2 linked regions of the Homo sapiens genome follow. The protein of the gene in region 1 interacts with the protein of each later gene in a biochemical or structural test. Each region holds a gene or a part of one and is shown in the gene's direction. Other genes may lie near its edges.

Region 1 (7,029 bases):
CTCAGATTTTAGGTGAAGCCTGTGGGGTAAGGGGAGACCTTACTGCCTACAGTGTCCCCATCCACCAACCCATCCCCCCCGCAACTCATCCTTCTGTCCACCCCCAGTCAAAGGCCAGCCAGGACATCCTTAGCATGCTCTTCTTGTCCTTAACGTTGATGGGCTTAGACCTTTCTAACGACAGTAGACAGAATGTCACTGAATGTAGGGAGGAAATACAGATTGGAAAACGTGTCAGTCTGGCAGTGAGGACAAATGACTCCAATGAAAGAAAAGTAAATACCAGAGCAAGCACAGTCAGAAACAGAGTGGGGAGGAGAATCACAATAGCTGGAACTCAACTCTCTGAGAGGCAGTGCAGCCAAATAGAGGCAGCTGAGAGCAGAGTATGTGGATTAGAACTTTTCGGGAGAGTTGGCCACTGAAGGAGTAGGAGAAAATTCCCCTGAGTTGGTGAGAGTTGAGTCTTTAGAGCTAAAGACCCCCAAATTTTTTTATCAGAAGTACTTAAACATACATGTTCCTGATAATATTTCCAAATTGCAGAAGTAAAGGGAAACTTCTCTAAACATCCAAATAATAGTATCACTACTAAGCTGCTTTGAAGAAAGGCAGTCTCAACTGGCCTGGGCATCTCATCTTTGTGCCATACCAAATGCTACTGGAAAATGTTTAGAATTCTGAGAAAAGACCTGGCTTCATGAGGTGAGAGTAGGTATGTGTACTGTGTAGTTGTCATTGATAGAGAAATATAAATTTTAAATGTGTTCAAAATATAAAGAGAACACGAGAAAATTTCAGGTGGTGGCAGGAATAGGCAAAAGCCCGTTGCACCCTGTTGACAGCAGGGTGTTTGTGACGTGGTAGGTCACACACTCAGTGCTGGGCTCTGGAGGCACAGAAGCAACCGGCCCAGCTACGCATCAGCCCTTGAGCCGATTCATGTGTTCGATCATATTCCTGAGACAGTAGGGTCTGTGCAGGTAACAAAGCACCAGTCAGCAGGAAACTCACCACCGGGAAGCCTTTCTATCAAAACATAACTTCAAAATCAGTAAAGTGGGCCGGGCATGGTGGCTCACGCCTATAATCCCAACTTCAAAATCAATAAAGCGGGCCGGGCGCGGTGGCTCACGCCTATAATCCCAACTTCAAAACCAATAAAGTGGGCCGGGCGCGGTGGCTCACGCCTATAATCCCAACTTCAAAATCAATAAAGCGGGCCGGGCATGGTGGCTCACGCCTATAATCCCAACTTCAAAACCAATAAAGCGGGCCGGGCGCGGTGGCTCACGCCTATAATCCCAGCACTTCGGGAGGCCAAGGTGGGTAGATCACATGAGGTCAGGAGTTAAAGACCAGCCTGGTCAACATCGTAAAACCCCATGTCTACTAAAAAAAAAGTTAGCTGGGCATGGTGGCACGCCCTCGTAATCCCAGCTGCTCGGGAAGCTGAGGCACGAGAATTGCTTGAACCTGGGAGGCAGAGGCTACAGTGAGCTGAGATCATGCCACTGCACTCCAGCCTGTGTGACACAGTAAGACTGTGTCTCAAAAAACCAAAACAACAAAAAATAATAAAAATATATAGAAAACAGAATAATTAACAGATTAGCTATGGAAAGATCAAAGCTACAGGGGACCCAGATAACACAACAGGCAGAGTTTAGTAGATACGTGTCAAACCCTAGATTGTGACAGCAGAGTGTGCCTGGGAATTTCTATGAAACTAATGCGGAATAAAATGAAAAAAGGACAAAACCCTGCTGCCTGGAAATGTGAAACCTCAAAAAAGTCAAGTGTAGAGACCGTAACTATGTATCTGAACCTGATGTGTACAGAACTCAGAAGAAAACCTGTGTATCTTCAGTACTAGTATATGGGTTCTTTACAAAGTGAAAATTAATGAAATAAGCATACAACTCAAGAATTCGGAAAAAGCAAAATTAACTGAAGAAACCAAAGAATAATATTAAAGACAAATACAGAAATTAATGATTTAAAGGAAGAAATGTATTAGGCCAGGTGTAGTGGCTCATGTTTGTAATCCCAGCACTTTGTGAGGCTGAGGCAGGAGGATTGCTTAAAGCCAGGAATTCAAGACCAGCCTGGGCAACATAGCCAGACGTCTATTTTTTTTTTTTTTTTGGAACAGTTCTGCTCTGTCGCCAGGCTGGAGTGCAGTGGTGGCACGATCTTGGCTCACTGCAATTTCCGCTGCCCAGGTTCAAGTGATTCCCCTGCCTCAGCCTCCTGAGTAGCTGAGACTACAGGTGCATGCCACCACGCCTGGCTAATTTTTTGTATTTTAGTGGAGATGGGGTTTCACCATATTTCACCATGTTGGCCAGGATGGTCTTGATCTCCTGACCTCATGATCTGCCCACCTTGGCCTCCCAGAGTGCTGGGATTACAGGCGTGAGCCACCGTGCCTGGACCTCATTCTATAAAATATTTTAAAAATAAATTTTAAAATTAAATTTATTAGAACTAACACATACTAGAACTGGCTCTTTGAAGCAATAACATATATGTTTTAAAAAAATCAAAGTTAAAATCCCTCCCTTGGCTAAGCACTGTGGCTCCCGCCTGTAATCCTAGCACTTTGGGAGGTGGAGGCAGGCAGATTGCTTGAGTCCAGGAGTTTGAGACCAGCCGCCTAGGTAACATGGTAAAACCTCATCTCTACAAAAAAACAAAACAAAAAAACTAGCCGGACATGGGGGCATGTACCTGTAGTCCCACCTACTCGGGAGTCTGAGGTGGGAGGATCCCATGAGCCTGGGAGGTTGAGGCTGCAGTGAGACATGATTGCACCACTTCACTCCAGCCTGGGTGACACAGTAAGACCCTGTCTCAAAAACCAAACAGAAACCCAAACAACTCCCTTAAGGCTGGGCGTGGTAGCTCCTACCCATAATCGCACCTCTCAGGGAGGCTGAGTTGGAGGATTGCTTGAGACCAACCTGGACAACTCCCTCTCTATAAGAAATAGAAAAATGAGGCCAGGCACATGGCTCATGTCTGTAATCTCAGCACTTCGGGAGGCTGAGGTGAGCAGATCACTTGAGGTCAGGAGTTCGAGACCAGCCCGGCCAATGTGGCAAAACCCCGTCTCTACTAAAAATACAAAAATTAGCTGGGCGTGGTGACACACACCTGTAATCCCAGCTACTGGGGAGGCTGAGGCAGGAGAATTGCTTGAGCCCAGAAGGCGGAGGTTGCAGTGAACCGAGATTATGCCACTGCACTCCAGCCTGGACAACAGAGAATCGGCTTCAAAAAAGAAAAGTCAGGGGGCACAGTGGCCCACACCTGTTGTTCCAGCTACTCGGGAGGCTGAGGCGGGAGGATTGCTTAAGTGCAGGTGTTTGAGGCTGCAGTGAGCTGTGGTTGCACCACTGCACTGCAGCCTGGGTGACAGAGTGAGACCCCGTCTCTAAAAGAAATTTAAAAAGTTCTGTCTCAGAATCCTTGTTTTCCAGCTGTCTGTTTTGAGAAATTTGAGTCCTACAAAAAAGTTCAGTGAGTCATGGCCACAAACCCTCCACCTAGATCCACCAATTGTGTTTTGACACGCTTGGTTTTTATGAGCAAGCCTCCTACGAATGAGAGTGTTCCTGAGAGCCACACAGCCTCATCACCACAAAAGAGGTGACGCCACGACTCACCAGGGTCCGTCTTGGCCCCTTGCTGTCCAGGGAACAACCCGTGCCGCTGATTTGTGTTCCTGGTTGAGGGTCCGGTGCTGTGTGTATATAGTTGTGATGTCTTTCTAGTCTTTAATTGAGAAGGTTCTGCCTCTTTGTTGTGGTTGTTGCTGCTTTGTGGCATTTTTGACGAGTTCAGGTCAGCTGACCATCCCACACGCTGGATTTGTCTGCTTCCTCACAGTTGGGCTTGGGTTGAGCCTGTGGCTGAGAGTAGCCTCTGGGTGGCAGTGTCCTCTGCTCTCCCATCCGGGGCCTGCAGTGGGACACTATGTCAGATCCCCGGAGATGGTGTCTTTTTTCCTTTGTAATTAATGAATAATCCAGTGGTGACACTGAGCATGTCCTGGTGAGCTGTGTGACTCCTGCCTGATAATGGTGGTTTTTCTAGCCTGTCCTTTCCTTTCACGTTTATTGGTTGGCGTTCTGAGAAGAGCCGCCTTTTCTCCCATCACTTAGTGTGCAGTGTGCTACCTGTCACCTGTCTGTCACCTGTCAGTCACTGTCACCTGTCACTGTCACTGTCACCTGTCACTGTCCATCTTTTTGATGCTTGACGGTTCCACCTTTGGCCGGTGGCCACCTCAGTCTGGTGGTGTCTTTTGCCGTGTTCTGGCGTTTTTCGTTTATGTTTTGAGCCCTCCCTTATGTTCTGGGTTAAGCAGATGCTGCAGGCACCTCTGAACATTCCCTGCCTGGCCCTGGAATCAGCCTGGCTCCTCTGAGTGGGGAGTGGTGTTGAGAAACCTCGATCTAGACGCCGGGCATGCTCCATGCTCCCGGAGTGTCTTCTCCCATCACCGCACCCTCCGGTTGATGTGTCCTCCGGACCATTGACTCACGGGTGTGTGTAGGCAGAAGGGGTGGAAGCGAGGAAAGGCGTTGCTGAGGAGGCCCGGAGGGAGCGGGTTCTGGCTGTGCTGGCACTAGCCAGGCTGGCAGGCTGCGTGGGTACTTCTGTGATTTTCCTCTCAAGTGCACGTGGCTTTTTCTTGCACTGTTTCGTGTGTGTGCTTTATTTCACAATAAAACTCTTGAATTAAGTATGCATAGAAACTATTTCTTTTTTCTCTGGGTGGCAAGATTATGAAAAAATTTTCTTACGCTTTTCTATATTTTCCAAGTTTGAATTTCACTGTAAGCACCTGGCTTTGTACCGCCCTTTTTCTGTTACACAGTCATCATTTGCTTGCTTGTTGTGGGAGCACTTTTGCACAGGTCTGCTTGGTTAGTGAAAGCATGTCTCCCTTTCTAGGAAGGTTGTGCAGGACCAGCGTTCCCTGTGCAGGCGCCACTGCGTTTCCTGCAGATTCCGACCGGCACTGCAACGGATTCCCTGCCGGAGCTGAGGTCACCAACAGGCCGTCGCCATGGAGACCCCTGGTACTTCTCATTCCCCTGCGCCTGGGGCTCACGGACATCAACGAGGCCTACGTGGAGACGCTGAAGGTGGGTCCTGCCGTGCGGCGCTTGCCCTGAGTCCCCGTCCCCTTCTCCCAGTTCTTAGTCACTTTCAGCGCATCGTCGTCACGTGGCCATTTGTGCAGCCGGCTCTCGGGGGAGGGGTAAACAACCCTGGTTTACACCGTTGCCCAAGGGGTGAGTGGGCGTGAGGCACGTCCATCAGTAGGCACGTGCTGCTTTCGTTCTGCAAGTGTCAAGGCGAGTGTCGAGGATGAAAGCATGAGGCGCTTGCAGGGGGTCCTTGGAACCAGGTGCCACTCCTCGGCCTGACGGGGAGCCCCGCCCCCTCCCGGGTCTCCACTGTGCCCCAGGCATGCCCACCCCACTCCCCCACAGCCCTCTTGGCCTGAGGTCCCTTCGGAGGGTGGGTTGGCCTGTGAGGAAGGGACGTGTGGGCAGGGCCTGGGGATGGGCAGGGCTGTGTGAGGAGCTCCAGCCACAGGCTCCCCCATGTCATGAAAGCAAAAGGGGGCGGGGAGCGGTGGCTCATGACTGTAATCCCAGCACTTTGGGAGGGCAAAGCGGGCAGATCACGAGGTCAGGAGTCTGAGACCAGCCTGGCCAACATGGTGAAACCCTGTCTCTACTAAAAATATAAAAATTAGCCGGGCATGGTGGTGCGCGCCTGTAGTCCCAGCTACACAGGAGGCTGAGGCAGGAGAATCTCTTGAACCCAGGAGGCGGAGCTTGCAGTGACCCGAGATCATGCCATTGCACTCCATCCTGGGTGACAGAGTGAGACTCCATCTCAAATAAAAAAAAAAAAAAAGCAAGCAGAAGGGAAAACCATCCTTTCTTCAGGTAACTCAAATTTTAGACCAAGGAGTCACATTTGTATGGAACTGAAATGTGGCTTCCTGTTAAAATTATTCAGTTGTCTGAACTTGGCCCCTCCGTCCAGCCTTCTGCCCATCCTGTGGGGTCTCAGCTGCCCCCACACATAGGCCCCGTCTCCATCGCTTCTGCCCTGTCAGGTCAAAGCACTCAGCAGGGCCACCTCCCGCACCCCTGCTCACATCTCCTGCCAGGCCCCCTCACTCCCGGCCTCCCCAAAGCCCACCTCTGACATGAAGCTTCCCTGAGCTGAGCCTGCAGATTGGGTTTCTTGTGCCTGTGGGATGTCCTGTGGTCTTTCCTGGACAGTAAGCTCTTTGGTACCATGTCCCCTCCTGTCCCCTCTTGTGTCACCCAGTTGGGCCTCAGCAGGCCCTTGGGCCCCCTATGGCAGTGGGTGGGGGGACCGTCTGCTCCCACCTGGGACCTGTGCTCAGTCCCCCGCCCCTCCACAGCACTGCTTCATGATGCCCCAGTCCCTGGGCGTCATCGGAGGGAAGCCCAACAGCGCCCACTACTTCATCGGCTACGTTGGTGAGTCCAGGGTTCCCACCGTGTCCCTGTGGGCCTGGGCCTTTTAAGGGCATTCCATGAGCAGGTACCACACCCCAGGTGACCACTTGAGGCCACTGGTGGAAAAGCAGCATGCCCTGGGGTTCATTTTCAGCCTGGTCGCGGGCGGCCTCCTGTGTGCCCCTTTCCCTGATGGTCTGGTGCCCTCGGCTCCCTCCCCACCTCCTGCCCACTGCTTCTCAGTGTGATGTGGGTGCAGTGGGTCTGAAATGCGGCCTCCTCTGTCCCTTTCCTCTGCCGGCTCGGCCACCCACCTGCCCACCTGCCTCATCCTCCCAGGTGAGGAGCTCATCTACCTGGACCCCCACACCACGCAGCCAGCCGTGGAGCCCACTGATGGCTGCTTCATCCCGGACGAGAGCTTCCACTGCCAGCACCCGCCGTGCCGCATGAGCATCGCGGAGCTTGACCCGTCCATCGCTGTGGTACGTGGCGGCCACCTGAGCAC
Region 2 (7,029 bases), on another chromosome or scaffold:
AACTTGAGGCTCCCAGGCCTTGGGCAGGCTTGGCCTAGGACGTACATTGAACACCAAGTGTGTTGAGACATCTGCAAGGGGTCCTGAGGACTCTGTAAGTTTATGAAAGGGTAAAGAGGAATTTTGGGGAAAGGCCCTGCCCTCAGGTTGGCAGGGGTGTGAGATGGCACAGGGGGCACTGAGTTCTAGAGCAGAGCCCCTACTCAGATGTCTGGGATAACCTGCTCCCCAAAGAAAGCCCGGTATGCTCCAAGGGACATCCTGTACCAGAAATATCTATTCCCGCTTGTTCTCTACTAGGTGCCAGGCTAGCTTTGGGGTCCAGAGAGGAATAAGGCAGACCCCATCTGCCAAGCTCAGATTGGTCAGGAGAAAGAAAGGGACACAGCACATCTGTAAATTGGCAGTGCCATGTGGGCAGAGACCCTGGCACAGCCTTGCTCACTACTGTGTCCCAGCACCCAGTTCAGTGACCCACACCCCACACAGGCAGCTCAGCATTTGTCAATCTTGGTTGATTGCAAAAGAAGGCACGGAGTGGCACACCAGGAAGGGTGGTAGCTGTGGGAGCATGGAGCAAGGAGAAACAGCTGCCAGCCAGGACCCTGGGAATCAGAGAAGGCCTCCTGGAGAAAAAGCGGCTGTACTTGAGAGGCGCCTTAGTGGTGGTGGAAGGAGATGAATCCAACCAGAAGGCACAGCATCAGCAACAAAGGCATGGAGTCCAGGGCTGGGCGCAGTGGCTCACACCTGTGATCCTAGCACTTTGGGAGGCCGAAGTGGGTGGATCACTTGACCTCAGGAGTTTGAGACTAACCTGGGCAACATGGCAAAACCCCGTCCCTACCAAAATACAAAAAAGTTAGCCAGGCATGGTGGTGCACACCTGTGGTTCCAGCTACTTGGGAGGCTGAGGTGGGAGCATCATTTGAGCCTGGGAAGTGGAGGTTGCAATGAGCTGACATTGCATCACTGCACTCCAACCTGGGTGACAGAGTGTGACGCCATCTCAAAAAAAAAAACAAAAAAACAAAGGTGGCAGGAATGGGATGTTGCCAAGTGATTCCACAAACTTATTGAACATCTACTCTGCCTGGCACAGGACCCAGGGGATAGAGTGTTGAATAAGACAGAAGCCTATCCCAGCTAGGCTCACAGGGAGGAAGACTGGACAGACCAGCAAACTCATTCATTATTTACTGTGGTCATGGTGGGTCGAGGGAGCAGCTGGACTGTGGGAGGCCCCAAACAAGGAGTTTGGACTTTTACAGGAAGCTCTGGAGACCTAGGAGGTTTCTGCTGGAGCAGCAGGCTGAGAGGGTAGGAGTAGAACTCTGGAGCCAGAGAGGCCTAGAGTTCAAATCTCAGCTCAGCCACCCTCCATCCATGAAGCTTTGAGCAGGCCACGGCACCACGAGAGCCTTGATTTCCTTCTGTGTAAGGGGAGGGGAATCATACGAACTCTCAGTGTTATTGAGAGGCATCAGTAAGGCAGTGCATGTTCCCAGCAGGAGCCAGGAGATAGAAGTGTTGTAGGGGGTCTGGCTCATGAAGCATAGGCTGGCGAGGCAGCAGCCTGGGGTAGGGTGTCAGGACCCCTCCCTCCCAACCATGGCAGACACAGCGCCCTCTCTTGTTCACACACAGTGGCGGCCTGGTCCTCCTGAAGGTGAAGGCAAAGGTGCGACAGTGCCTGCAGGAGCGGCGGACAGTGCCCATTTTGTTTGCCTCTACCGTTCGGCGCCACCCCGACAAGACGGCCCTGATCTTCGAGGGCACAGATACCCACTGGACCTTCCGCCAGCTGGATGAGTACTCAAGCAGTGTAGCCAACTTCCTGCAGGCCCGGGGCCTGGCCTCGGGCGATGTGGCTGCCATCTTCATGGAGAACCGCAATGAGTTCGTGGGCCTATGGCTGGGCATGGCCAAGCTCGGTGTGGAGGCAGCCCTCATCAACACCAACCTGCGGCGGGATGCTCTGCTCCACTGCCTCACCACCTCGCGCGCACGGGCCCTTGTCTTTGGCAGCGAAATGGCCTCAGGTGAGCCCCAAGGGGGCGGGGGACAAGCAGGAACCCCATGGGATCTTACACAGACCACAGCTCCCTTCCAGCCCTGCCAAGGCTGTGTGGGTCAGTGGTTAAGGGCACAGAGTGGAGTCAGACAGCTTAGGCAGTGCCACGAGTAAACGAGATCCTGGGGAAGGGACTGATTTCTCTGAGCCTCAGTTTCCTCATCCGTCGTTCCTACCTCATACTGTTTTCAAAAAGGTACTTCAGACTGGGCATAGTGGCTCACAGCTGTAATCCCAGCATGTTGGGAGGCCAAGGCAGGAGGATCCCTTGAGCCCAGGAGTTTGAGACCAGCCTAGGCAACATAGTAAGACCCTGTCTCTACTAAGAAATTTTTTTGAGACAGGGTCTTGCCCTGTCACCCAGGCTGGAGTGCAGTGGTGCAGTCACAGCTCACTGCAGCCTTGACCTCTCAGGCTCAAGCAGTCCCTCCACCTCAGCCTCCTGAATAGCTGGGACCACAGACATGCACCACCATGCCTGGCTAAATTTCACATTTTTTGTAGATACTCAGTTTTGCCATGTTGCCCAGGCTGGTCTCAGACTCTTGAGTTCAAGCGATCCACCTACCTCTGCCTCTCAAAGTGCTGGGATTATAGGCATGAACCACCACACCTGGCCTACTAAAAAAAGTTTTTTGTTTTTTTTTGTTTTTTTTGTTGTTGTTGTTTTGAGATAGAGTCTTGCTCTGTCGCCCAGGCTGGAGTGCAGTGGCGTGATCTCGGCTCACTGCAACCTCCACCTCCCGGGTTCAAGCAATTCTCCTGCCTCAGCCTCCTGAGTAGCTGAGATTACAGGCACCCGCCACCACGCCCAGCTAATTTTTTTGTATTTTTAGTAGAGACGAGGTTTCACCATGTTGGTCAGGCTGGTCTCCAATCCCTGACCTCGTGATCCACCCGCCTCGGCCTCCCAAAGTGCTGGGATTATAGGCATGAGCCACCACGCCCGGCCTAAAAAAAGTTTTTAAAAAATTAGCTAGGCTTGGTGACATGGACCTGTAGTCCCAGCTACTCAGAGGCTGAGGCAGGAGGATCACTTAAGACTAAGAGGTTGAGGCTGCAGTGAGTGATGATTGTGCCACTTCACTCTAGCCTGGCAGACAGAGTGAGACCCTGTCTCAAAAAAAACAAAATAAAAGGCCGGGTGTGGTGGCTCATGCCTGTAAATCCCAGCACTTTAGGAGGTCGAGGTGGGCAGCTTTGAGATCAGGAGTTTGAGACCAGCCTGGCCAACATGGTGAAACCCCGTCTCTAATAAAAATGCAAAAAAAAACCTAGCCGAGCATGGTGGTGCGCACCTGTAGTCCCAGCTACTCGGGAGACTGAGGTAGGAGAATCGCTTGAACCCAGGAGACAGAGGTTGCAGTGAGCCGAGATCACGTCACTGTGTTCCAGCCTGGATGACAGAGAGAGGTTACGTGTCAAAAAAAAAGATACTTACCTGAAGCACTAGCAACATGGCTGATGCTAGGTGGCCCCTCAGTACAATGGTAATCATCCTTGTGACTAATTAGGCCGTATCTAGCTCATCTGTAAAATGGGAACAAAATTAATTCCCCACTTTCCTCACAGAGCCTGCATTTTATTTGCTGCCACATTGGGCACCTGCAAAGTACTGAGGTTGCTGCTTTCCAAGAGCAGCTCTAATCTCTATAAAGACCGAGTGAGGTAGGGATCTTGGTTTTATGGATGATGAGCCTGGAGTTCAGAGGGGTTTGTGAGGAGCTCACCCAAGATCACACAGTTAGTAAGTGGTAGAACTGGGGTTTGATCTTCAGCTTGATCACAGCACTCTGTTTTTTCTCCCCACACTGTTGTGGTTGTGGGATAATGAATAGGGAAGTCATTAGGATGCTGAAAGGGGGCCTGGCATGGTGGCTCACGCCTGTAATCCCAGCACTTTTGGAGGCCAAGGAGGGCAGGTCACCTGAGCTCGAGAGTTAAAGACTAGACTGGCCAACATGGTGAAACCCTGTTTTTACTAAAAATACAAAAATTAGCCAGGTGTGGTGGCACACGCCTGTAATCTTGGCTACTCAGGAGGCTGAGGCACAAGAATCACTTGAACCAAGTGAGCCGAGATCATGCCACTGCACTCCAGCCTGGGCGACAGAGTGAAACTCTGTCTTAAAAAAAAAAAAAAAAAGATGCTGAAAGGGGGCCAGGCACAGTGGCTCATGCCTGTAATCCCAGCACTTTGGGAGGCCAAGGCAGGAGAATCTCTTGAGCCCAGGAGTTCAAGACCTGCCTGGACAATATAGTGAGACCCTGTCTGTCTCTATTTAAAAAAAGCAAAAGAAAAAAAAAAAAAAAGAAAGGAAAGAAAAAAATGGTGCTGAAAGGGGAGAGGGAAGAAGGCAGCCAGGGAAGAAGAGAGGGTTGGGCAAATCAAGAGGAAGCCAGGAAGGTGGGGCCAAGCCGACCAGCGCTGCTCCATGCCCGGGGGTGGGGGTTATGTGATGTCCGTGCAGTGCGCAGGGGAGCCTGAAAGCAGGTTCCCGCTCTCGGAAGGGGATGGAGGGCCACTGGCCTCTGACCCGCACTCCTCCCTTCTATCTGGTGCACCACAGAGTAAGTAGTGCGGGATAGTGGGGGGGAGCCCAGACCTTGATGTGAGGTAGAGCTGGCATTGCACGCCAGGTCCAGCACATTCTAGCTGTGAGCAGGTCCTCTCATTCTCGGAGCGTCAATCTTCTCATCTGTAAGAGGGGCTGTCAATGGTCCCTCCTTCCCAGGGCTGTGAGACCAGGGAATGCAGGTAAAGCGGACCTACTCTGTGGTTAGCCCATGGCTAATAGAACCATTGCCGGTGCCCCTGTCAACACTGAAGGCCCAGTTGCTTCACTGCCTCTCCTCCTGCCCAGCCAGTATCCTCAGCAACATGGCCAGCCCTGCTGGGAGCAGAGGTCCCTGGGAACATGGGGTTTTCTGGCCTGCCTGCTGACTGCCCTGTCTCCCCACAGCCATCTGTGAGGTCCATGCCAGCCTGGACCCCTCGCTCAGCCTCTTCTGCTCTGGCTCCTGGGAGCCCGGTGCGGTGCCTCCAAGCACAGAACACCTGGACCCTCTGCTGAAAGATGCTCCCAAGCACCTTCCCAGTTGCCCTGACAAGGGCTTCACAGGTGGGCTCCATCCCCTCCCCATAGAGGGGCTCTCACACAGGCCCTGGACAGAGCACTGGCCTCAGTGCCAGAAGGAGGCTTTTCTGGAAACTTGCCATGTGCCTGGAACATGTCACGTCACCTCCCTTTTTCCATCTGGAAAATGGTGACAGTAAACCTGGGCCACTCCAGGGTTACTGTGAAGGTGACATGAGCTGATGTGTATCAGTGCCAGATACAGGGCTGAGAACACAGGAGCTCACAAAGTCCAGTGTGATTTGTTGAACAAGCCTTCATTGATGCCTAATGGGCAGAATCCTGTGGACTCCGGGAACCTGCCTGGTCTGGGCTTTGGTTGGGGTTGGGTGGGAGGGTGGGTGAGGAGCAAGACCCTTTGTATATTCATCAAGTGCCTCTTCAGTGCAGGACACTTCAGGATCTCCAGCTGTGATCCTCTCCCAGCACTGTGCTGCCTCCCTGACCCCACCTCCAGGCAGCCTTCCTGAGCCTCTCACCCCTCTTCTTTTATACTGTAGCCTACCTGGTTCTTCTGCTCTTCTCATTCTCTTTCCTGTGAAGCCACATTGCCTGGTGGCTCAGAGCTTGGGCTGTCGAGTCAGATCCGAGTTTATATCCTGGTTCTACTGCTTCCTTTGTGTGAACCCTGACACCTGCCCTGCCCTTGGAGCCTCAGTTCCCACAGCCATAAAACTGGGGACAGTAGCAGAACCTACTCTATGGGGTATCTTTGAGGGTTGAAAAAAATACAGTGGGGCCAGTCCTGAAGCTAGGGTGTGGCAGGAGGGGCTCAGTAACTGGTCATTGTCATCAGCACTGTTTAACTTCTCTCTTGTATGTGAATCTGGTCTCTTGGGTGCATTTGTCAGCTGCTTGAGGGCAGGGACTCTGGCTGGTTGCTCTGGTGCCCTCATAGTGCCTAGGGCTGGCAAACAGCAGGCAGGCAGAGAGCATGAGGTGTCTCGGCAGGCATTCTAAACACGTGGAGTCTGCCTGTGGAGTTCCTGACCTCCAGGGAACCTCAAGTCTGGTAGGGCCGAGCCTCACATAGAAACTCTAACGTGGCAATCCCTGTCGAGGGCTGCAGAGTGGGACAGATCAATGCTCAGCAGTGCGGAAGCTACCTCAACACCCCACTTCCTGCAGCTAATGCCTCCCTGTGCTCTATGACTTGGGGCAGGTGTCACCTTTATCGTGAAGCCCACCTGGCACCACCTCCCCTCCTGCAAGCTTGGGCCAAATGTGGCTACTGGGTTTCAACAGGTCCTGTGCCCTCCCTCGGCACTTGTTGCTTAGTATTGGAATTGCCTGTGTCCTCATCTGACTGTTCCACTGAGCTGTGACTGCCAAGAGGGCCAGGCCCGTGCCCATCTTACTCACTGATGTCTCTCTCCACCAGGGCCTAGCACAGAGCAAGGGCCCAGGAAATATTTGTTGGAATGGATGCCGGTGTTAGAGCTGAATGGTATCTGAGGTTATCAGAACAGGCTTCCTAGCAAGGGTGTGATGGGAACAGGTGTTGAAGGGTGCACACCTGCAGGTGTCCATTTGTGTGACCCTTTGCCCAGCCCTGAGCTGCCCCCGACAGCCACTCGCGTCTGTTTTCTTTAGATAAACTGTTCTACATCTACACATCCGGCACCACAGGGCTGCCCAAGGCCGCCATCGTGGTGCACAGCAGGTAAGGGGCAGGTGCCCAGGGTGGGGTAGGCACAGGCAGGGCTGGGGAGCCTCCTTCTGCCTTTCTAGGGCCCGCTCAGCCCTTGGCCCTGTGCCTTCCCAGGTATTACCGCATGGCTGCCCTGGTGTACTATGGATTCCGCATGCGGCCCAACG

The links. Proteins that work in one complex are often made in the same cells at the same time.
Region 2: the proteins of ATG4B (region 1) and SLC27A4 form a complex in vitro, tested with the Homo sapiens proteins (one study listed by BioGRID).

The regions. Positions count from the first base shown.
Region 1 is NC_000002.12:241,661,680-241,668,708, forward strand, and holds part of ATG4B (cysteine protease ATG4B), read left to right. Parts: intron 1-4,965; coding exon 4,966-5,159; intron 5,160-6,463; coding exon 6,464-6,542; intron 6,543-6,860; coding exon 6,861-7,006; intron 7,007-7,029. UniProt on the Homo sapiens protein: Cysteine protease that plays a key role in autophagy by mediating both proteolytic activation and delipidation of ATG8 family proteins. Required for canonical autophagy (macroautophagy), non-canonical autophagy as well as for mitophagy.
Region 2 is NC_000009.12:128,343,508-128,350,536, forward strand, and holds part of SLC27A4 (long-chain fatty acid transport protein 4), read left to right. Parts: intron 1-1,647; coding exon 1,648-2,042; intron 2,043-5,037; coding exon 5,038-5,196; intron 5,197-6,804; coding exon 6,805-6,874; intron 6,875-6,976; coding exon 6,977-7,029. UniProt on the Homo sapiens protein: Mediates the levels of long-chain fatty acids (LCFA) in the cell by facilitating their transport across cell membranes. Appears to be the principal fatty acid transporter in small intestinal enterocytes.